Linked DNA regions of Homo sapiens. The gene in region 1 interacts genetically with each later gene. Each region holds a gene or a part of one and is shown on either strand. Other genes may lie near its edges. The genes, in order: EZH2, EP300, SEC24C, MAN2A1, SREBF1, EED and RICTOR.

Region 1 (2,205 bases):
CTGTTTTTTGATTACAGGTTGGTAAAGTACATTTCTAGCATGATCTCTAAGGGCTTTTTCTACTGGATTGTGAACTCTGGACAAAGGAGGGTTTTTAGTTCTTTGCTTCTTTTGATGGGTCACTTTGCCATGAGCATTAGTGGGGAATTAGGTTACACTTTCCTGTTATGTATTTATTATCCATTTATATATTATACAAGGCATGCTTATTTTTAAAATAGAGTAAAATCCATGCAGAAAGCCCCATTTCTCACCCTGCTGTTGACAGCTGGGTGAGTCCTAGACCTTCTCATATCATGCCGCATGCTGCATGCTCACTCGTGGAGCGTTTTCCAGATAAGTGCGATCACACTGTCCTATAGATTTTTCTGCAACATGGTTTTACTTGACAATATACTATGCATATCTTTATGGATTAGATCTACTTAATTTATTGTTTGCTATAATACTTATTACACATATCATTACCATTTTAAAAGGGGCTGTTGGCAAATCGCTGTCTGATCACCCTGTGGGGATGCCTGGGACACGTGGGCCACCAATGGTATCTGTGTGGTTAGGCATTAGGCTGCCAGTTGACACTGTCAAGCTCTGTGGGATACATTTAAGTCAGCCATTGAATACAGATTTAAGTGCAGTCAGATGACTGTCTAGTTAATGAACTCCTGTAGCCCCGTGTACATCCCATCCAGAAGCTGTCTTTGAGTACTGTGTTCTTGCATATTCAGGCTGGCCTTTAATGGCTGTTGCACAGCAGCGAGCTCTCAGTGAGGCAGACAGGGTCTGAGTGAAGGGCCCACTTTAGCAAAGGCCGCTGCCTTCACTCCAGGCTGGCTCTGAATGAAGAGTGTGGGGTGGAGCTTCCTTGGGATGACCCGGTGGCCTCACCCCCCATGGTGGGCTTCTTGTGCTCCTCTCTGGGTGTCCGCTGCACTCCAGTTCTTGCTTCACCTGGGGGAGCAACTGGCGGGCTGCTCTTTGGCCCTCTTTGCTATGGTCATCATTTTTTCCAGACCATGGTTCTATTTTGCCTTCCCAGCGTCAGGCCTAAGCATCCTGATGTGGACCAGCCTTCCTGGGACCACTTGCTTCAGAGGCATAGGGGAGGCTGGTCAGGCTCTGGGAATGCTTGTAGACAGGTTTGTTCACTTCAGAACTTGGCAGCGTCTCAATTAGATGGCCAGCAACACAGACCTATGCATTGCCTTCTATGAATGTGCCGTTATGCAGGCAGCTGTGTAATTGGATGGGTTTTTTTTTTTTTTTTTTTTTTAAAGACATTTTAATGCACCCACTATCTTCAGCAGGCTTTGTTGTGTTAAGTCTCAGCACATGTTGGATGGGTGGCCATCCAGCGGACATCTCCTTCCTGTTGTTTCAGATACAGCCAGGCTGATGCCCTGAAGTATGTCGGCATCGAAAGAGAAATGGAAATCCCTTGACATCTGCTACCTCCTCCCCCCTCCTCTGAAACAGCTGCCTTAGCTTCAGGAACCTCGAGTACTGTGGGCAATTTAGAAAAAGAACATGCAGTTTGAAATTCTGAATTTGCAAAGTACTGTAAGAATAATTTATAGTAATGAGTTTAAAAATCAACTTTTTATTGCCTTCTCACCAGCTGCAAAGTGTTTTGTACCAGTGAATTTTTGCAATAATGCAGTATGGTACATTTTTCAACTTTGAATAAAGAATACTTGAACTTGTCCTTGTTGAATCATCTCTCATAACGTGTCAATAACTGCTTTCAGGACTGCTCAACAAAAAACTTTTAAATTTAACTCCTTGGGTTTTTTAGTTGTCTTTGTATGAATCTTGATTTAACTAATACTGCCTGTGAATATGTGGAAGACATATATGAAGAACACTGCTGTGCATCCTGAGGGCTTACCCAGTAAAGGGCTTGATCTTATAGACAAGACCAGGGTGGGTACGTTCCAGTCAGCTGTGCAACCTGGAGAAAGAGATTTAACCTCCAAGTCTGTTCCCCATATATAAACTGACAGAGTAGACTTTTAGGTTATTTTTAAGAACGTACCTAGTTCTAAACTCCATTAGTCTAGATAGAGTTCTTTAGAAACAAACACAATATAAGTTGGGATTCCTTACCTACCTTATCACAAAAGGTGATTGATAGGTATAACCAAACTGTAGTTTTATATCTTCTCAGAGGTAAAAATCACAAACTCTGAAAGCGTCAAGGAAACG
Region 2 (3,500 bases), on another chromosome or scaffold:
CCCTCAGCTTTTAGGAATCCCTGTAAGTATTTGGTGGTACTTTTGATTTTATTTTTTAATTTGATAACAGCTTTATTGAGAGATAATTCACATTCCAAACAGTATAGCCACTCATTTCAAATTTGTAATTCAGTGATTTTTTTTTTTTCCCCCTGAGACAGGGTCTTATTCTGGTTGCCTAGGCTGGAGTGCAGTGGCACGATCGTGGCTCACTACTGTCTCCACCTCCCGGGCTCAGGTGATTCTCCCACCTCAGCATCCTGAGTAGCTGGGATAACTACATTCATGTGCCACCTCACCTGGCTAGTTTTTTGTATTTTTTAGTAGAGACGGGGTTTCGCCATGTTGCCCAGGCTGGTCTTGAACGCCTGGACTCAAGCAATAGGCCCATCTCAGCCTCCCAGAGTGCTGGAATTACAGGTGTGAGCCACTGGGCCTGGCCTAATTCAGGGAGTTTTAGTATATTCACAGAGTTGTGCATGACACTTTCATTTTCATCATCTGAAAAAAATCCTTTACCATTAACAGTCACTCACTATTTTCTCCCATAGCACCCCAATCCTAGACATCACCAGACTGCATTCTGTCTCTGGATTTGTCTGTTCTACATGTTTCATTAAATTGGAACATACAGTATGTGATTCTTTGTGCCAGGACGTTCCTTAGCATAATGTTTTCAAGGTTCATCCATGTTGTAGCATGAATCAGTAGCACATACCTATTTATAGCCCAATAATATTCCATTATTTTTCTTTACCTGTTGATGAGTTGATAGACATTTAGGTTGTTTACACGTTTTGACTATTAAGATAGGACTGTAGTGAACATTGTGTGGATTTAAGTTTTTATTTCTCCTTGGTATTTACCTAGGAGTGGAATTCCTGGGTTATATAGTTTGTTTACTTTTTTGTTGTTGTTATTTGTTTTTTGTTTTTTTGAGATGGAGTTTCACTCTTGTTGCCCAGGCTAGAGTGCAATGGCGCAATCTCAGTTCACCTCAACCTCCCCCTCCCGGGTTCAAGCAGTTCTCCTACCTCTCAGCCTCCCGAGTAGCTGGGATTACAGGCATGTGCCACCATGCCCGGCTAATTTTGTATTTTTAGTAGAGATGGGGTTTCTGTATGTTGGTCAGGCTGGTCTCAAACTCCCAACCTCAGATGATCCACCCACCTCGGCCTCCCAGAATGCCCAGATTACAGGCGTGAGCCACCGCACCCGGCCACTTTCGTTGTTTCAAGAGCAATAGGTCATAGCAGAAAAAAGGACCGTGGTTAGCTTTGTTTTTAAAGTTGCCTCCATATACTAGGCTGCTGGCAGATTTCATTTGGTGGTTTTAAACTGTTACTTGGCCGGGCACGGTGGCTAACGCCTGTAATCCCAACACTTTTGGAGGCCAAGGCAGGCAGATCACTTGAGTTCAGGAGTTGGAGACCAGCCTCACCAACATGGTGAAACCCCATCTCTACTAAAAATATAAAAAGTAACTGGGCGTGGTGGTGCACGCCTGTAATCCTGGCTACTTGGGAGGCTGAGGCAGGTGAATAGTTTGAACGACCCTGGGAGGCAGAGGTTGCACTGAGCCAAGATTGCACCACTGCACTCCAGCCTGGGCAACATGTTGACAGAGACTCCATCTCAAAGGTCAAGTGCTTCCAGGGGCAAAAGCCTTTTAGGACTTTTCCTCTCTTGTATCTTGCTGTGATTTCAGATGGAACATTTTAAGTTCTGTGGGCTTAGTTTCCTCATTGTACACCCCTTCTAGTACTAAAATTTTAAATGTCTTTGACTTTACTGATCTCACATGTACTTTCATAAAGAACCTGAAGTTGCTTCAGTAGAATATCAGCCTGATGTCTAGAAAGTCCATAGTAGTTCTGTTTCTCTGCCCTTTGAGTAGTTTAATATCTCTGTAAACTAATATTTAAAGAAGTGATGGACATCAGTCACCTCTTGGGGAATATAGACAGGCCAGAAACTAAAACACTGCCTGGAAAATTAACAATGATAATGGATGATACTCCATCTCCCGTAAAAATAGTGAGACTTGAGTAATGTTTGATGTCACTTGTCTTTCTAGGATTACTTTGATATTGTGAAGAGCCCCATGGATCTTTCTACCATTAAGAGGAAGTTAGACACTGGACAGTATCAGGAGCCCTGGCAGTATGTCGATGATATTTGGCTTATGTTCAATAATGCCTGGTTATATAACCGGAAAACATCACGGGTATACAAATACTGCTCCAAGCTCTCTGAGGTCTTTGAACAAGAAATTGACCCAGTGATGCAAAGCCTTGGATACTGTTGTGGCAGAAAGGTAAGAAATGTGTTTCAGATTTGACTTTAACTTTTCTGGGATACCTAGAATAATATAGTGGTGACTGGGATAAGAGAATATCCTGCTTCTGGCTTTGACATGGCTTTTTTTTTTTTTTTTTTTTTTCCTTTTTGACAGGGTCTTATTCTCCCAGGCTGGAGTGCAGTGGTGAGGTCATAGCTCACTGCAGCTTCAACCTCCTGGGCTCAAGCAATTCTCCCACCTCAGCCTCCTGAGCAGCTGGGACTACAGCCGTACGCCACCATGCCTGGCTGATTTTTTAAATTTGTTTTGTAGAAACAGGGTCTCATGATGTTGCTCAGGCTAGTCTTGAACTCCTGGGCTCAAGCAGTCCTCCTGCCTCGGCCTCCCAAAGTGCTGGAATTACAGTCATGAGCCACCTCTCCCAGCCAACACAGTCTTTCTCTTACTGTGTGCCACAGTAGTAATATCTCTTAATATGAAATGGGCTTTCTTTAAAGGCATTTTTTCAGAGTGGCAATTGTATGGAAAAGTTGACTAATTAAATAATCAACAGACTGTTAACTCATCTGGAGTAGGGGCATTCTTATATTCACCTGTGGGTGCAGATTCCTCAGCATGTGCTGGCTTTCCTGTACATACCAATTCACATTATTGGTTTTTTGTTTTTAAAATAAGACTATGGTCTTGCTGTGTTGCCTAAGCTGGTCTGGAACTCTTGGGCTCACGCAGTCTTCCCACCTCAGCTTCTGAGCACTGCAGGCATGTGCCACCCTGCCCAGCTATTCCTGTTAGGTTCTTTGGTAAAGTGATGGAAGGATATGACTGCTAAGCCTACCTCAGCGTTTTGAAATAATGTGGTAGTAAACTGAGAATGATTTTCAGGAACTGAATTAGCCCATCATTATTAACATAAATGAGAACTAAGACACCACTGACTTCTGTTTCTGACTTGCCATTCTTACTGTTCTAGCTTGTCCTTAAGGCCTCTGTGCTTTTTAACAAATGGTTTCTTTTGCAGTTGGAGTTCTCTCCACAGACACTGTGTTGCTACGGCAAACAGTTGTGCACAATACCTCGTGATGCCACTTATTACAGTTACCAGAACAGGTAAGCTTGGCCAGGTGTGGACCATGGTCCATGTGTCCACATGTCCAGGGAGTGCATGCGGATGGGCCAGCACACATACAGTCATGGTTCA
Region 3 (3,500 bases), on another chromosome or scaffold:
AACTGTCGTTCACTCTTCCCCATCCACACAGCAGAAGCCTACCAAACAAAAGTACTGGGGACTTCCTCCTAAAACTGTCCAAGTAAGAGCAGAGAAACCAGTGAGGCTTTCCTTCTCTTAACATCTAACATCAGAGAATTCCCACCTGCTCTACCCATTAGGAAGAATGCCATCCTTCTAGATCTAAGGGGACAAGACCCAGTCACTGCTCCACAGAAGGACAAAGGCTACTATACTATGTATGTACAGTAGTGACAGAGTGCAGCCCTCAGACATCTACTGGTGCTGCTGCTCACTCTTGGTTTCCCTTCCTTCTCTGCCCAGCTATAGAGTAAAACAGCCCCCCAAAAGACTCCTAGAACCTCAAGTTCCAGTTCAGAATCAAATTATATGTAAGTTCTCCAAGAAGATGAACAAAAAGGGAAAATTATCAGAAAATGCTAGGCAAACATTTCATCTAGATTGACCTGCCTATCTGGCAGACACAAACCCTTCCTCAGGACCATGAAAGTTTCTACTTACAGGGCTTGGGATGGCATCAGGGTCCAGGCGCTTAGGAGGCAGTGGCTGAGGAGGCCCAGGCTGACTGCCAAAGGTGGGTGCTGCTGGGTAGGGGCCTCCATAATTAGACTGAGGGCCCCGGGCTGGTCCGAAGGAACCTGAGACAAGGACACAAGGTTGATGAACTCAAAATCCCATCCCTATCTCTTCTTAAGGCCTCAGGAAAATGACTAGACTCCTAAAAACATAGAATTATGAGGCACACTAATGCCTGGCAAAGACATTCAGAAAAATACCATGTTATCAGAACGACAAGAAAAAATAATGTCTTACAAACCCCATATCCTAGGAATAATACCCTGAAGCTACCCATCTAATTCACCACTTAGCAAGTAATACTAAAAACAAACAAATAAAAAACATCAAAAACCACCTGAGTAGCTGAAGCCTCTAGCTTCTAAGACAGACCTTGGGAAAGACTCACCATTTTGTTGGGGCTGATAGCCTGGCTGCTGCGGGGAGTGCATAGGTGGCAGTGGTCCCAGGGGCCCAGTCATCTGGGTGCCAGGGGGCAGAGCTTGAGGAGGTGAAGACACATGGTTGGGCTGGCTCACTGAGGGCCCTCCAAAACTCTGTCCAGGCAGGAGTGGACCAGTCATCGAAGGCAGCCGAGGACCCCCTGAAGCTGGGGGTGTGAAGCTGGAGGCCTGTGATGGGGCAGATCGCTGGGGAGTCTGGATCCCAGGATGACCTTGGGCCTGGCTAAGGGGAGGAGCCTGGCCCTGAGGATAGGAGCCATACAGACCAGAGTTAGGGAAACTTCCTGAGGCTGAAGCCAGCGATGTTGGTGGGCCTGAGAAGTAGAATAAAGGTAGAGTCAAAAGCCCAGTCATTCTGCCTCCTTGTTCGGTATATCACTTCCCTTTCCACACAAGAGGGGCAAATATGACTGTCCCATCTTCTGAGGCTCAGAGGCACAGGAAATACAAGGGAAATAAAAGAGATTCAGGTATAACCCCAGAGTCTGATGCCTCTGAACAGGGGACAGTAACATTCCTGTGTTCACAGCCACTCACCAAAGCCCAGCCCTGAAGAAGGAGGGGCTGGGGCCACAGCACCGCTGATCTGCATTCCAGACAGCTGCGTAGCCACCTGTGCACTTGTCGGGGGAGGGCCATAGGGCTGAAGCACAGGTGGCTGGTTGCCCACAGGGGCCAATGGGGACCCAAATGGCTGAGACCCAGGCAGCCTGTGAAAAGAAAGCAAGCAGAGGTGACTAGTGGGGCCAGGACACCCTTTGAAGTCTACAGAAGTGTCACATCATACAGGAAGCTACATTGTTTTGTGACATCTTACTCTCACACCCTGAGTTCTTTTATGGCTTCATACTTTTGTATATTTGTGGGTAAATTATATTCCTGATTATTCATGGCAAATCTTGTTTTCCATTAAGCTCACTCCACAAACATAAACCAAGCACCTTCAGGTCAAGTACTATTTACTCTGCTAACTAAATTACTGCTTCCTCTGCTTCAATTCTTTGACAAACCTCTTCAGTTTTGTAATCTGAAGCCCTGAAAGCACTGAAAGGGAAGGCACGCATAAGCATGCATGAACCTTAATAAATATGAAATCAAACAAATGCAGATTGATTGTCCAGCTTTTTTTTTTTTTTGAGACAGGGTCTCACTCTGCCACCCAGGCTGAAGTGCAGTGGTGTGATCACAGCTCATTGCAGCCTCAACTTTCCAGGCTCAGCTGATCTTCCCACCTCAGCCTCTCAAGTAGCTGAAACGAAAGTCACACGCCACCATGCGTGGCTAGTTTTCGCATTTTTTATAGATACGGAGTCTCGCCATGTTGCCTAGGCTGGTCTCAAACTCCTGAGCTCAACGAATCTGCCCGCCTCAGTCTACCACAGTGTCTTTCCAATATACTTTCCATTCAGTGTCTCCCTCTCTGATTATTCCCATCAGCACAAAAACATACAAACATCTCACACACACACACACACACACAAAAACCAACTATAGTGGAAACATCCCAAATGTCTATCAGCAGAAGAATGGATAAACAAAATGTGGCATGTAGCTACACAATGAAAAACCACTTAACCACAAAAAGGAATGGAGTACTAATATACACTACAACATAGTTGAACTTTGAAAATATTATGCTAAATTAAAGAAGTCAGTTATAAAATATCACATAGTATATGATTCTATTCTAATGAAAAGTCCAGAATAGGGAAATCTTTAGAGACAGAAAGTAGATCAGGAGTTGCTTAAGGTTGGAAGAATAGGGGAATGGGGGAATAGCTAAACAGGGGTAGTTAAAGAATGCAGTATTTCTTCTTCAGATGATGAAAATGTTCTAAAACTGACTGTAGTGATATCTGTCAATATACTAAATTGTGACAGCACATATCTGTCAATATATTAAAAACCACTAAATATACAAAAACACTTTAAACAGACGAATTGCACAGTATATGAATTATATCTCAAAAAACTTTTTAAAAATCCAACCAAATTACCTCACAGCCCCCTCAAACTTTTGCTCCCCTTTTAGCTAAACATTACAAAAGAATAGGTCTATACTCTGTCTCTACTTTTTTTTTTCTTTTCTTTTCTTTTGAGACAGAGTCTCACTCTGTCGCCCAGGCTGGAGTGCAGTGGTGCGATCTTGGCCCATCACAACCTCCACCTCCTGGGTTCAAGCAATTCTCCTGCCTTAGCCTCCCGAGTAGCTGGGACTACAGGTGCCCACCATCATGCCTGGCTAATTTTTGTATTTTTAGTAGAGACGGGGTTTCACTATGTTGGCCGGGCTGGTCTCGGAACTCCTGACCTCGTGATTCGCCCGCCTCAACCTCCCAAAGTGCTGGGATTACAGGCGTGAGCCACCGTGCCCAGCCTTACGTTTTTTTTTTTTTTTTTTTTTTTTTTTTGAGACAGGGTCTCGCTCTGTCACCCAGGCTGGAGTACAATGGCACTCAC
Region 4 (3,500 bases), on another chromosome or scaffold:
CGTGCTCCTATGAGAATCTAATGCTGCTGCTGATCTGACAGGAGGTGGAGCTCAGGCGGTAATGCTTGCTGACCTGCTATGCCACTCACCTCCTGCTGTGTGGCCTGGTTCCTAACAGGTCCATGGCCCTGGGGTTGGTTGCCCCCTGTATAGAGCATGTTGCTCTCTGGTACCTTAGCTTATGACTAAAGGAACTTTTATTTTGAAGCCATAATGAATATGGTCCTTTTTCTGAAACATTTACTGCTAGAGATTTATACCCTTCCCAGAATGTCTTTGAGCTCATTTCAGAGCTAAACATTATAATGAAAACCATTGTGTAGTCCAGCATCCAGAACTTGAGTTGATTCTTTTTTTTTTCACTGCTTCTAACTTATTCTTAATAATACCAAACATAGCAAAAGGAGGTTGCAATACATTTGTTTGGCAAGTTTGGGTATTGAATTCTTGAGTTTTAGTAGAGCCAAGCAGGTCGGTCACTATGTGTCATTTTTTGGTATCTAGTAGAACGGTTTATTTAGATAGGTATTGGGTTCCTCTAAATTGCCCATTTAGTTGGTTTCAGTTGATACGGAACCTTCACTAGGCTTTAGGTCTATCTTGTAAACAAGATATTTTTAAAGACCATCCTAGATTGAGAGCAATCTATTTGTTGTTTTTTTGGAGAGCGGGGGTTTGTTCTTTTTCTCTTCTCTCACAACTCTGGTGTTTTCCACCATTTGGCTGGACTCTGGGGCAAGAGTGGGCTGGCCGAGGGTGCTCCAGTTTCTCTCACCCCGGAACAGCTGCCTGCCTCTAAGATATTCTTTGGAAGTCTATCCTGAAGCACTCCGAAGCCTTGCTTCTGCTTCTGGGAGGAATTCCTTGGAGGACTAGAGGCAACAGGGGGCCTAATCTGTTGAAACTTGTGTGTATATTTCAGGGTTAATAAATCTCAGCTAAGAAAATTAATAAAAATTCCACTGTGAATGAGAGGTTGGTCAGAGACTAATGTCTTGAAAATGCTTTATGATAACTTGGAAGAATTTGAGCAGATGGAAAGGAGAAACTTTGTTAAGGTCTCCCTGAAATTAGTCATCACTTCTTACAAGCAGATTTCACAAGGTGCTTACTATCTATGGTGTGTATAATAGGGTTGTCTTATTAATTAGTCTGATGTTTGGATCTGGAGAAGTAAATTAATGAGTCAGGTTTTGTATAACAAATGATCACTTTTTAAGTAATTAGTGTAGCATATGACCGTAGAGATTAATATTAACTCTTAAAATATGGAAATTGAGACTCCGATGGAAAATGTGAAAGTGAAGTTAAAACTTTATCTTTTTGCCTATGTAACATTTATCAAGTGAGAAAGTGAGAATGCCTTTAAATAAGCATTTGATTGAAAGCCATTAGAAGGTGAGAACTTGTATACCTTTTTTTTTTTTTCTTTGGGATAGGGTTTTGCTCTGTCATCCAGGCTGGAGTGCAGTGATGGAATCACAGCTTACTGCAGTGGCCTTGAATTCTTGGGCCCAAGCCATTCTCCCACCTCAGCCTTCTGAGTAGCTGGGACTACAGGTGTGTATGCCACTGTGCCCAGCCAGTTTTAAAATTTTTATTTTGTGGAGACGGGGTCTTACTATGTTGACCAACTGGTTTCAAATTCTTGGCCTTAAGCTATTCTCCTGCCTCAGCCTTCCAAAGTGCTGGGATTATAGGTGTGATTCACTGCTCCCAGTTGCCTTTTGTGTTTTTTTTTTTTAACTTACTGTAATACACATACAGAAATGTGCTTACATACTTTACATCAGTAGTACTTAAGAGTCCAGCATAGTAGATGTTATTAATGAAAGTTGACTCATGGCAATACATATAACTAGGACTTTGATTCCCCAGTTTTTTTCTTGCTTTCATAAATCTGTAAATCTTACTTAAGAATGACATATAAGGAAAATATGATCTCCTTCCCCTTCCTTGAGTGCAGTCTATTTATAAACAATAGCACTTGGTGCTGGGGTTTGTTCACGTTTGTATGAGGGAGATTGTCTTATTTTCTGGGATATAATGCGGAGATCTGTGCTTTTTGGGAAGTGATGGAACGTTGATAGTGCATCCAGCATTTAGGAATGCAAGAACAAACATTAGAGCCTTTTGAGGATGGTGTCCTCTAACTCCTCTTCAGTCCAACAGCCCTGTGGGTCTCTTCCTGATCAGCATTTTTCACTAAGACCCAAACTTATTTCCTGTAAACCAACTGGGCCAGATACTCATGACTGTCTGTGGTCTGAAGATAGTAGTTTATGTTTTGTTTTTTGTTTTTTTTAAATTGAATTGGGTGTGTTGTTCCCAGATGAACACTGTTATCAGGGCCTAAACAAATATTTTTGTCAGGGAGATGTCACAATTGTATTATTGGAAGGGGATTTTCTCTCTTAGCTTTTAATTTGCATTAAGAGGTGTCTGGGCTGTGGGCAAAATAGTGGCTAAAATGACCACTTTTATTTGTTTTTGAGTCAGCTATTGCTTTTTGTGATAACTGAAAACTTTAGTCTTTTTTGAAGGACTGAAGTGTTGAGAGTTTCCTGGAATGAGTGGTTCACTAGCTGTTGCTGATCACCTGGTTTATTCTTAGCTTTTTTTGCATTCAGGAGTCTTAGTTTTCCCTTGTTCTCCAACTTCTGTAATCTTTAAGAAAATGAAAGGATATTTAGCAGCTCTGATGACCTGTATTTGCTGGATTGTAAAGGCCTTATTGCATTTTTTATCCCTTCTGTCTTGGTAAAAGTTCCTGATAGCAGCAGCTTTTATAAAAGTTTGAGCAGAACTAAGGCAAGGAGGAAGAACTCTAAAATAGTGATTTTTGCTTCTCAGTTGTTATTAGTAGGTTAATCAGGAGAGGAAGTAGGACATTTTAACTAAAATGGGTTTCTGTTTCAGTTATCAAGCCAAGCTGCTATTTTTAAGTTTGAAACCATTTTTAAATTCAGACAGGTTTGAGGATTAATTGTACTGAAATGGAGCTCACATCTAGTGCTTTAGTGAGTATAGCTAAATGTGCCTATAATAGGGAGGAAGTAAATCATTTGGTTTGATGAACTCTGTCACTTGAGGTCATATCATAGCTTTTCTGAAAGAGTGCCCTGTTTAAGGTAATTATATTTTATGCAGACAGGTGGATAGTAGGTATCTAGTATATATCTTTTTTTTTTTTGAGACGGAGTCTCACTATGTTGGCAGACTGGAGTGCAGTGGTGCAATCTCAGCTCACTGCAATCTCCACCTCCCGGGTTCAAGCGATTCTCCTGCCTCAGCCTCCCGAGTAGCTGGGATTACAGGCACAAGCCACCATGCCCAGCTAATTTTTGTATTTTTAGTAGAGACGGGGTTTCACCATGTTGGCCAGGATGGTCTCGATCTCCTGATCTCGTGATCTGCCCGCCTTGACCTCCCAACATGTTGGGATTACAGGCGTGAGCCTCTGCGCCTGGTTGGTATCTCTTAAATATCTTAATGTTAAA
Region 5 (3,500 bases), on another chromosome or scaffold:
AAACTGGGGCTCCACTCGGCTGCTTGAGATGCCCTGTTACTAGCAGTCCTGGTGTGCTTGTTGCCGGGGTAGGCGCAACCTCGCACTGGAGGCCTGGCTTGAAGCCAGTGCATTTGCATCAGAGCCCAGGCAGGGACTGTCCATAGGAAGCCACATGGGGCAATGACTCATCCAAGGCCAGTCGGTGATAGAGACCTGAAGAGCAGGTTGAAAGTGGGAGAGGGAGGTCTGTGTCTGCAGCCCCATGCTTTATTTCTGCAGGAAGCCCTCCCGGGAACACCCAGCAGCCGCTGCCTGGCCTGCCACTGGCTTCCCCGCCAGGGGTCCCGCCCGTCTCCTTGCACACCCAGGTCCAGAGTGTGGTCCCCCAGCAGCTACTGACAGTCACAGCTGCCCCCACGGCAGCCCCTGTAACGACCACTGTGACCTCGCAGATCCAGCAGGTCCCGGTGAGGGGGTCTGGCCAGGGGTTGGGGAGGGGGCAGCCCCAGCCCAGACACACAGCTTACAGCCAAGCCTCTCCCACCCTCAGGTCCTGCTGCAGCCCCACTTCATCAAGGCAGACTCGCTGCTTCTGACAGCCATGAAGACAGACGGAGCCACTGTGAAGGCGGCAGGTCTCAGTCCCCTGGTCTCTGGCACCACTGTGCAGACAGGGCCTTTGCCGGTGGGTGACGTGGGCAGGGCATAAGGGAGTGGGGTCTACACACACACACACATGCCCACCTGGTAACATGTGCCTGGCCCTGCAGACCCTGGTGAGTGGCGGAACCATCTTGGCAACAGTCCCACTGGTCGTAGATGCGGAGAAGCTGCCTATCAACCGGCTCGCAGCTGGCAGCAAGGCCCCGGCCTCTGCCCAGAGCCGTGGAGAGAAGCGCACAGCCCACAACGCCATTGAGAAGCGCTACCGCTCCTCCATCAATGACAAAATCATTGAGCTCAAGGATCTGGTGGTGGGCACTGAGGCAAAGGTGTGGAGAGGCCTGCAGGGGCACAGACCGGGGTGTCCCTAGGAAGGAACAGATCAGGGGCAACTGGAAGGAAGAGAGGGAGTGAGACTGAGCCTGGACAAGCAGGGAATTGGAATTCAGCCTCCCCAGGCCTGGCCAGCCTCGTTTATTTAGTTAAACTGGTTTGCAGGCCTCTTCAATAAAGGTGGGGCTGTGCTAGGCATTGGGGATGCAGCAATGAACAAGACAGACAAAAATTGTCCCTCAAAGAAGAGCCGACCTTCTGGTGGGGGAGATGGACAGTAGGCAGGATGAATAAGTGCTCGAGACCACCACGTTTGGCTCGTTGCAGAGAAAGCAGGAAGAGGATGGTGAGGGTCCCCTGGTGGTAGCCAGGGAAGGCCTCCCTGAGATGGCGGCAGGCACAGCAGCAGCTAGCCAGACCCTGCTGTCTGCATCTTACATTCTAACCCTATGCCCGGCCTGGGAGGTGGGTGCTACTAGGCGAGGAACGGTTCAGGTAGAAGGAACAAGTGCAAAGGTCCTGAGGCAGTAATGTTGCAAAGCAGCTCCGCACCCCCTTGCTAGGGCTCTCCAACCCCACAACCCCCGACCTGACAGGCCACCTGTGCGCTCCCCCTCCCTCCCACACCGTGCAGCTGAATAAATCTGCTGTCTTGCGCAAGGCCATCGACTACATTCGCTTTCTGCAACACAGCAACCAGAAACTCAAGCAGGAGAACCTAAGTCTGCGCACTGCTGTCCACAAAAGCAGTGAGTCCTGGCTTTATTGAGCTCCAGTCTGGCCTCTTCTCTAGCCTTGCTCCACCTCCCGGCCCCACCCCATCCCTAGCCCCACCCCACCCTTGGTTCTGGCCCACCCTCTGCCCTGCCCACCTCACCCTTGGCTGTAGCCCTGCATTCAGCTCTAGTCCCTTGGTTACCTCTGGTCCTGAAAGAGACCTGGTGCCTCCCTTTGGCCCTAACCCAGCCCCATCAAAGCGTCCTGGGCTAGCTTTAGGAGCTACAGTAGTCCCTAGGCCTCCAAGGGCCTAGGCTCTGATTTGGGGTCACATATCCAGCCTTTACTCCTGGCTCTGTTCCTTTCGGCCCACAGAATCTCTGAAGGATCTGGTGTCGGCCTGTGGCAGTGGAGGGAACACAGACGTGCTCATGGAGGGCGTGAAGACTGAGGTGGAGGACACACTGACCCCACCCCCCTCGGATGCTGGCTCACCTTTCCAGAGCAGCCCCTTGTCCCTTGGCAGCAGGGGCAGTGGCAGCGGTGGCAGTGGCAGTGACTCGGAGCCTGACAGCCCAGTCTTTGAGGACAGCAAGGTTGGGCCCTGCCACGGTGCCCCCTTCCCCACTCCCAGCCATATCCTCTGAGCCTCATGACAGGGCCGGGAAGACCCTAACAGATCCTACCTCCCATTTCATAGACAGAATAACTGAGGCCTGGAGCCACGTGGGGTCCCACAGTAAGGTGGGCAGAATCCTGACCCCCCCCTTCCCAGCCCCATGCTCTCTGGGGTCCCTCCGATTCTGCCCTCACCACCCTGCCCAACCCCACCAGGCAAAGCCAGAGCAGCGGCCGTCTCTGCACAGCCGGGGCATGCTGGACCGCTCCCGCCTGGCCCTGTGCACGCTCGTCTTCCTCTGCCTGTCCTGCAACCCCTTGGCCTCCTTGCTGGGGGCCCGGGGGCTTCCCAGCCCCTCAGATACCACCAGCGTCTACCATAGCCCTGGGCGCAACGTGCTGGGCACCGAGAGCAGAGGTGGGACCGGCCAGCCTGGGCATCTTTGGGAGGGACACTCGGGGTGAGCCCCCAGGCTTGTGAACTTGGGGCTCTGGATTTCCTGGGAGCTGTGTCCCCAGCTTTCCCTCTGTCCATAGATGGCCCTGGCTGGGCCCAGTGGCTGCTGCCCCCAGTGGTCTGGCTGCTCAATGGGCTGTTGGTGCTCGTCTCCTTGGTGCTTCTCTTTGTCTACGGTGAGCCAGTCACACGGCCCCACTCAGGCCCCGCCGTGTACTTCTGGAGGCATCGCAAGCAGGCTGACCTGGACCTGGCCCGGGTAAGGGGCTGGCCCCGGCAGAGTGGGCAGGGCAGGGACCCCAGGCTGTGAAGGTGCTGGGTGTCAACCCTTGTTCCTGCTCCCTGTGCACACCATGAATCTGTCCCGTCCTCCCTGTGCCTAGCCACGCATCCGCAGACCCCCACCACCCCTCCAGAGCCTGCTGTGGACGGCTCTTCTGAGCTTTGGGGCAGCTGCTCTGACCTCACTTTTCTCACCTGGAAAACCCTCATCCACAGGGAGACTTTGCCCAGGCTGCCCAGCAGCTGTGGCTGGCCCTGCGGGCACTGGGCCGGCCCCTGCCCACCTCCCACCTGGACCTGGCTTGTAGCCTCCTCTGGAACCTCATCCGTCACCTGCTGCAGCGTCTCTGGGTGGGCCGCTGGCTGGCAGGCCGGGCAGGGGGCCTGCAGCAGGACTGTGCTCTGCGAGTGGATGCTAGCGCCAGCGCCCGAGACGCAGCCCTGGTCT
Region 6 (3,500 bases), on another chromosome or scaffold:
AATGCAAAGGCTGGATTAACATATAGTATCTAGGTTAGTAAGGAAAATATACTCCTTCAATAGAACTCTCTACTGTTATTTCTTAGAATGAGAGCAGGAGACAGTATGTAGCTCTTCTGTGTAATACAGGAGTTCACTGGAGGTGGATAGGTGTGTGAGATTTTCATTACTCATTATGTGCCTTTTGCTAAATTAAATAGCATCTCTGGGCCTTAGTGTCTGCCTATGAAATGAGGTTGTTACAATAGATGATCTGTTACATGCCTGTTAAAAATTAGTAAACAGCAAATGAAAAAAGTTAAAATCTGTTTTTTATTAGACTTTTAAAAATTCACTTAAAAGTGAACTCTAAAACTAACTTCAAAATATTTTGACTTAGAATTATAAAGTAAGATGTCAGCTCTTTAAGGATTCATGTATTTTCACATGCACATGTCAGTTTCATTGGTTGGTTGAGGTTGGATAGGAAAAGTAATATCACTATTCAGCTCTTTGTGTCAGAATAATTATTTTAACTTAGTATTCAATTTACCTTCAAAATAAGCAAAATAAATATTTTAGTGTAATTGAATAGATAAAACTAAGTTTAAGTAATTTTTTCTTGGTTTATACATTGTAAATGCTCTTATATTCCGATGTTGACAAACTAATTAAAGCTGTAAATCTTGAAAGTAGTAAACTCTGATTTATGGCCTATTTAGATGAAACCCAAAATGTAGTTTGTATTGTGATTTGAAATACAGTTTTCACTATGTTGCACATTAGGCAAAAATTGGATAAATATAATTTGGAGCTGTAATTTATATAAAACTTTTTGGTTTTGCATACAGGATTATGATCTTTTGGGTGAAAAAATAATGTCCTGTGGTATGGATCATTCTCTTAAACTTTGGAGGATCAATTCAAAGAGAATGATGAATGCAATTAAGGAATCTTATGATTATAATCCAAATAAAACTAACAGGTAACAGTTGTGGTATTTGAAACAATTTGCTATGTTGTGCTATTGAATATAAGTTTTATTTTTTCCCAAAATTGCTATATAAGCCCCAACAATGAGTTTAGAAGACCTTCTTTTAACTTTAAGGGACAATTTACATACTGTAAAATTCACCCCTTTAAGAAGTCCTTTATTTGCAGTGTTTGTGGCTTAGTTTTCAAAATCCCCTTTAAATTGTGTTGTCATCTTAACTTAGTAGCACATTTTACTTATTTGTATTTTGGTATGCATATGCTTGGCCTTTTAAGTTATAAATGTAAAAGTTTTAAATCACTTAAGCTTATTATGGACTAGGGAGAGTAAAGGACACTTTAGAATAATGTTAACTTTTTTTAAATGATGCTAATTCTAATTCAAGATGGTAAACCACAGTTTTAAACAATGGAGTTCTTAGCTCTAATTCATGATAATGTTTTTCCCTAAATGATGCTCACTTGATTAAATGGAGAGAATTCAAATGCAGGAGCCTCACTTCATGGTACTATAGGTTGGGGAATTTTGCAGTTTTCTTAGTATATTTTTGAAATGTCTCAATTCTTAATGCAGTAACTGTCTTTAGAATCTTATCAGGCTGTCATTAACACTTTCACTATAAACGTTGTATGTCTGCATGTTAACTTTGTTGGCACTTTTGTTTTAGCAAAGAGCTAGAATTCATTTTCTGGTTATCAAGCCAGATTGTTAATAGATTATTAAATTTGTAAGCATCAGTAAATATTTCAATGCACTAACATTCATCAGACCTAAGTGTCCTCTAAGAATTATTAAAAGTTTTACCTTTCTCCTTTAAAACACCAGGAGCTAGTAGGACAATGTTAAATTTATATTTTTAGATTATTTTCTAGATATCTGGAATAAATACAAACTATATTTCAGAGTTTTCAAAAAATAACAGTTGTACTCGTTTTTTCTTTGAGAGAGGTTTGGCCATACAATTATAGTATGTATTTAGCTAAAAAGCAATTAATATAATTATAGCAGAGTTAAGAATTTATATCAGATCACGAATAACATTTTAATGTTTCAACAAAATATCCCAGAATTTGAATTGGAAGGATTGTTTTGAGTTGCTCCAATCCAAAGTGCTTTTTTACATATCTGAGGGAAAAGGTAAAGAGAGGACATATGAATTGCCTAAGACAACTAATTCATGGCATATTATACTTATACAGCTATTTCTGATTTAAAACTGAGTATATTAGGAATGTTAAGTGTACTGTTAAATAACTCCAGAATTAATAGCAGCTTGTTTTGTTTCTTCTCACAAATATCTCTAATGAAAACAGTGTTGCCATTTAGTTTCCTAAATACAGAAATTATTTGGAAAAGTCCTAGGAAATTTTATTTTGTTCTATTTGTTTTTTTGAGACGGAGTTTTGCTCTTGTTTCCCAGGCTGGAGTGCAGTGGTGCAATCTTGGCTCACTGCAACCTCTGCCTCGCAGGTTCAAGCGATTCTCCTGCCTCAGCCTCCCAAGTAGCTGGATTACAGGCGGCCGCCACCATGCCTGGCTAATTTTTTTTTTTTTTTTTTTTGTATTTTTAGTAGAGATGGGGTTTCACCATGTTGGCTAGGGTGGTCTCGAACTCCTGACCTCAGATGATCCACCTGCCTCGGCCTCCCAAAGTGCTGGGAGCCACCGCACCCACCCCCACTTAAGAAATTTTAAATTCCTGTAAGGCATCATTTTCAGAAATTATTGCTCAAGGCAGGACTGTAGATGTATCTTTAGCAGACTTTGGAATGATGTTTAGTTGTTCCTGGAAAGATGACTATCTTTTGAAATAGTGTAGATATATTGACTTTCATAGATTATTAATGCTTAATTTTAAGGACTGAGTAGGTAGCTTAGTATATTTTCAGTGAGAAACTGATCAGGCCTTTATTATTGGTTAGGGTACCCAGAATTGAGGTGATTAATTTTGGGTTATATATAGTAAAACGCAGGAAACTACAATGTTTATAAACAAAGTATCTATCATAGGACAAAGATAAAATTGGATAATAATGGAGAAAAATAAACAAAAGTGGAATGAGACTTTAGCTTTCAATAAATAGATAAGGTGGTTGGTTATGTAGGAACACAGAGGAATTAATAGTCTTACATTTTGTTTTTCCAAGTTTTATAAATCCAAAAATGAAAAAGAGTATGATTCTACTATAATTTTTTCTTTTAACTTTTTACATTTCCATTCTTCCTTCAGGCCATTTATTTCTCAGAAAATCCATTTTCCTGATTTTTCTACCAGAGACATACATAGGAATTATGTTGATTGTGTGCGATGGTTAGGCGATTTGATACTTTCTAAGGTATGGTAACTGCAGTTAAGCTGTACTTCCATCGTGTGTGTGTGTGTGTGTGTGTGTGTGTGTGTATGTGTGTGCGCATGTTGGAACTTGGCAGGGAGCACTTTATGTAGTTTATTAAATTGAATGGCAGCTGGGAAGTTGCCTTTTTTAAAGTCTCATATTTTGATATATTTAGAAACTTGTTTTAAGAA
Region 7 (3,500 bases), on another chromosome or scaffold:
GAATTAGAATACCAAAAAGAAATTTGGAAAAGTAAACCAGAGAACTTTAGTCATCACTAGGTTTTTCTGAAGGTGGGACGTGATCACTTACCTGAATGACTACATATTGCACTCAGTTGGTTGCTGGGCTGGAAACCCAGAATTTCAATACAGACACAATAAAGGCAGTTATCATCTGTATGTTCCTGTAGTCCAGTGTCTTCTGTACTTTCTAAAAACAGAGAGGCATCTGAATGGATTGAATTCATTATTTCCGTAAGACTCATCTGCTGTCGTAGCAAGTGAAAAGAATTTTTTACAAGACCTCCAGTTCCAGATGGAAGACCTGTGCATAAGTAAATATAAAACATAATCCAATAAAGATAATACTTTTCAAGGTACCTTAAATTATGTGAAATTTTAAAGAAAGCTTAAGCACATTTTATGACTCAAAATCTAACTGGAAAGAAAAAAAGAATAATTTGCTTTAAGTTATAAAAATAAGGAAAGCCAGCAGATGTTTATTATTTTAATATATAGTGTTTTAAATACAAAATGGAAAATTGAGATTATATAATACATCATTTCAATTATCGTCAATATTTGCCTAAAGATATGTAATAATTCTAAGTATAAAGAGGCATTTGTTTAAAAAGTCATTAAGAATATAAAGCTATAAAACCTGTGGCTTATATTTACATATTAAAATATAACAGTTCAAAACAAAGACCGTGTATTTTATAAGTACATTTCTTTCTCCTTACTCTAAACAAACAGCTATTTCCTGGATCTATGAGGATTAGTGTTATACATTGTTCATGTGCTACTTTTAAAAAACAGAAACAACTAATTTGGTTTCTATTTCCTTGAAAGGTTGAGTACTTCACTGAAAACACTGTTAAGTCCCTCACACATACACAAAAATGTGGTTTAATTTTAAGCTGACTTTAACAATTGTTTTGGTATAATTTTAAAGTTGATCCAAAAGTGAGTCTTCCTAAATTTTTAGTGTTATCCTACTAGAAAGAACTAAGAGTTTTCTTTTTAATATAAAGAGGCATCTCACAAGTACAATGCACAATGCATTACCTCCTGCATCATGGGCAAATGCTCTTGCACCTCGATCATCATGTGGTGGTATGTTTTTTGTCTGAAAATAGGGAATATCCTTTACCTAAAAAAAGATATAAACCATGGTAAGTCCTGCTATAAAAATAAGCCCACTTTATGAAAATTAGCAAAATTAAACAAAATAAAATTAAAATAGAATTACCATAGCATATGAACCTATAATCAAGTTTACTGAAGGTTCAACTACCAAAACTTAACAAAATAACCCAAAAAGTCCTTATTATATTATTAGTGACTAAATGGACATTAATTATTTTAGCGTTTATCTAAAATGTCTTTCAACTTCTAAGAAAATGTGTTCTTTAGTACTATATACCATCTAGAGATCTGTGGGTATCTCCTGGGATTAGGGTCACCTTATATTACTGGGTACCACATATGGCTGGCTACCTTTTATGGGATAAATAGGAATGAGGATTTAAAAATGAGGTATAAGTTAAATGTGACTAAAAAACAAGTTAGAAATTTCATAAATTTCTACAGAGAATATATGGATAAAGAAATCAAATGAGATACTGATTTAATATGGGAAGAGAGGGAAGGATAATGTTCTAAGGACTAAATAAAAGAGTACAGAGTAGTTGAAAAGGGCAAAATAATTTTAATCTTAAAGTTTCTTTAAACAAAACGGTCTTAAAAATCATGCTGCCCCAAACTGGTGCCCACCCTAAATTATGATTTCTAGTAAGCAGTTACAGCATATGAAAAAATAGGAAACCAACTCATAGGAAAACAATAAAATGTATGATAATACCTGGAATATATCATTTATATCCACCGGGAGAGCAAGACCAATGTAATCATCTGAACCCCCATATGTGGCACTGGACACCATGGACCGCACTGAGGAAGATCGTTGCAGGGTATTTTGATTAATAGGACTCAATAAATCTTCTTTATCTAATGATGCATAACTTAAGGCTTTCATGAACCTATAAAACCATAAAGAAACCACTTGCATTAGTTTCTTGATCTGTAATTTTAATCATATGAAGAAATAACATATATTCCTACCTTCATAAAAGACAAGTAGCTAGTCATGTATTAAGCAGTGTCATCTTGTTTACTGGCAACACATAAACACTTTAAAATATTAGCTGTTATAGACCGCTATGTAAAAGGTCACCAGTAATGTTGACTGTTACCAAAAACAACTGTTATGGTCTCTCAGGTAAAGGTGAAAAGGTGGGCAATTAGAATAACTTTCAACATCTAGAAGTAAAAAAAGAAACTGACCTCAGTAGTCAGAGCATGGTCCAAGGACTATCTTCATAATCACTTGAGACTACTAGATTTGGCATTTATGTAACTAAGGATATGTGTATCAACTCTATTTAATATTATATTTATAAAAAATGAGATCAATTACATATCATTATTTGTGTGATAATTACCTTAATGCCTTCATTATCAACATAAGATTTATGTAGCACACAAGACAGACACAAGAGCAAAATGGTCATTTATGACGAGATATCCTTGTAAAAAGCACTGATATTTCCACAATGTACTGATATTTCCACAATGTACTCCTTACTACTAGAGATTCCATAACAAATATGATACACTGATATTTCCATAAGATACATGTTTCTCATACAGATTCTTACTTATGCAACAGACATGCTAAAATATTTACTTGGTATCTGCTGTATATATACAAGGCACTATGCAAGGTTCCACATTTATATACATTTATATGAAGATATTTTTGTTTGGAAAACCAAGTCTTTAAAATGTACGAATGCAGCCTAATATTAAATCAAATAATTATTTTGTAAAACACACAAAAGAAATGCTTTCTAAATAGTAGCTATTAACATAGCAAAAACCATGCTCCTAATTTCCACCCAAAAAACACTCTTTCAAACTGTAATCTGTTACATTTCTTTGGTTCCCATAAAACTCTTCAAGGATTACTGGAGTGGGAGGAAAACAATTATTGGATTATTCCCCTTCCCAATTCCTATTTCAACCAGTATAGGTCCCTTTCTATCTATTCTACCTATTGGGTTTCCACAGAAATCTTTATGTGAAAAAATAATTTCTCTGCTTAAAAAACAACAATACAAAAGTTTACAACCACTGATCTAGTGCAATCTCCACCAGATGAGGTAACTGAGGCTTAGGAATGTTCAAAATTCATGAACTTTACTGCATAGATTTGTAACAGTGAGCTGTTGAGAACTTTCCCTGGCTTTGTCCTGGACAAGGTTGCCAAAGCTAGTGAGTTCCAGATAGATGAGACATTGCTGCATAATTTCTTAAATCCTGTAAGGGTACACAATTCATTGTCTGCTACCAAGAAACCCTCTATTAAATGTGTTAAGCATTATTGAAACAAAACTGCTTAATGTTATTAAGAATAATGTAAGGGCTAGATGGATTAC

The links.
Region 2: changes in EZH2 (region 1) and EP300 together harm fitness less than expected from each alone (positive genetic interaction), as found in Homo sapiens cells (one large-scale study listed by BioGRID).
Region 3: changes in EZH2 (region 1) and SEC24C together harm fitness less than expected from each alone (positive genetic interaction), as found in Homo sapiens cells (one large-scale study listed by BioGRID).
Region 4: changes in EZH2 (region 1) and MAN2A1 together harm fitness more than expected from each alone (negative genetic interaction), as found in Homo sapiens cells (one large-scale study listed by BioGRID).
Region 5: changes in EZH2 (region 1) and SREBF1 together harm fitness more than expected from each alone (negative genetic interaction), as found in Homo sapiens cells (one large-scale study listed by BioGRID).
Region 6: changes in EZH2 (region 1) and EED together harm fitness less than expected from each alone (positive genetic interaction), as found in Homo sapiens cells (one large-scale study listed by BioGRID).
Region 7: changes in EZH2 (region 1) and RICTOR together harm fitness less than expected from each alone (positive genetic interaction), as found in Homo sapiens cells (one large-scale study listed by BioGRID).

Annotation. Positions count from the first base shown.
Region 1 is NC_000007.14:148,806,883-148,809,087, reverse strand, and holds the end of EZH2 (histone-lysine N-methyltransferase EZH2), read left to right. Parts: coding exon 1-17; intron 18-1,381; coding exon 1,382-1,442; 3' UTR 1,443-1,705; downstream 1,706-2,205. UniProt on the Homo sapiens protein: Polycomb group (PcG) protein. Catalytic subunit of the PRC2/EED-EZH2 complex, which methylates 'Lys-9' (H3K9me) and 'Lys-27' (H3K27me) of histone H3, leading to transcriptional repression of the affected target gene.
Region 2 is NC_000022.11:41,155,092-41,158,591, forward strand, and holds part of EP300 (histone acetyltransferase p300), read left to right. Parts: coding exon 1-22; intron 23-2,077; coding exon 2,078-2,317; intron 2,318-3,320; coding exon 3,321-3,409; intron 3,410-3,500. UniProt on the Homo sapiens protein: Functions as a histone acetyltransferase and regulates transcription via chromatin remodeling. Acetylates all four core histones in nucleosomes. Histone acetylation gives an epigenetic tag for transcriptional activation.
Region 3 is NC_000010.11:73,757,872-73,761,371, reverse strand, and holds part of SEC24C (protein transport protein Sec24C), read right to left. Parts: intron 1,751-3,500; coding exon 1,578-1,750; intron 1,355-1,577; coding exon 986-1,354; intron 660-985; coding exon 523-659; intron 1-522. UniProt on the Homo sapiens protein: Component of the coat protein complex II (COPII) which promotes the formation of transport vesicles from the endoplasmic reticulum (ER).
Region 4 is NC_000005.10:109,692,927-109,696,426, forward strand, and holds part of MAN2A1 (alpha-mannosidase 2), read left to right. Parts: intron 1-3,500. UniProt on the Homo sapiens protein: Catalyzes the first committed step in the biosynthesis of complex N-glycans. It controls conversion of high mannose to complex N-glycans; the final hydrolytic step in the N-glycan maturation pathway.
Region 5 is NC_000017.11:17,816,487-17,819,986, reverse strand, and holds part of SREBF1 (sterol regulatory element-binding protein 1), read left to right. Parts: intron 1-261; coding exon 262-449; intron 450-532; coding exon 533-667; intron 668-752; coding exon 753-974; intron 975-1,612; coding exon 1,613-1,727; intron 1,728-2,070; coding exon 2,071-2,291; intron 2,292-2,395; coding exon of another isoform or gene 2,396-2,439; intron 2,440-2,529; coding exon 2,530-2,731; intron 2,732-2,850; coding exon 2,851-3,029; intron 3,030-3,268; coding exon 3,269-3,500.
Region 6 is NC_000011.10:86,265,253-86,268,752, forward strand, and holds part of EED (polycomb protein EED), read left to right. Parts: intron 1-830; coding exon 831-964; intron 965-3,203; coding exon 3,204-3,309; intron 3,310-3,500. UniProt on the Homo sapiens protein: Polycomb group (PcG) protein. Component of the PRC2/EED-EZH2 complex, which methylates 'Lys-9' and 'Lys-27' of histone H3, leading to transcriptional repression of the affected target gene.
Region 7 is NC_000005.10:38,945,400-38,948,899, forward strand, and holds part of RICTOR (rapamycin-insensitive companion of mTOR), read right to left. Parts: intron 2,043-3,500; coding exon 1,865-2,042; intron 1,154-1,864; coding exon 1,069-1,153; intron 326-1,068; coding exon 92-325; exon of another isoform or gene 1-91. UniProt on the Homo sapiens protein: Component of the mechanistic target of rapamycin complex 2 (mTORC2), which transduces signals from growth factors to pathways involved in proliferation, cytoskeletal organization, lipogenesis and anabolic output.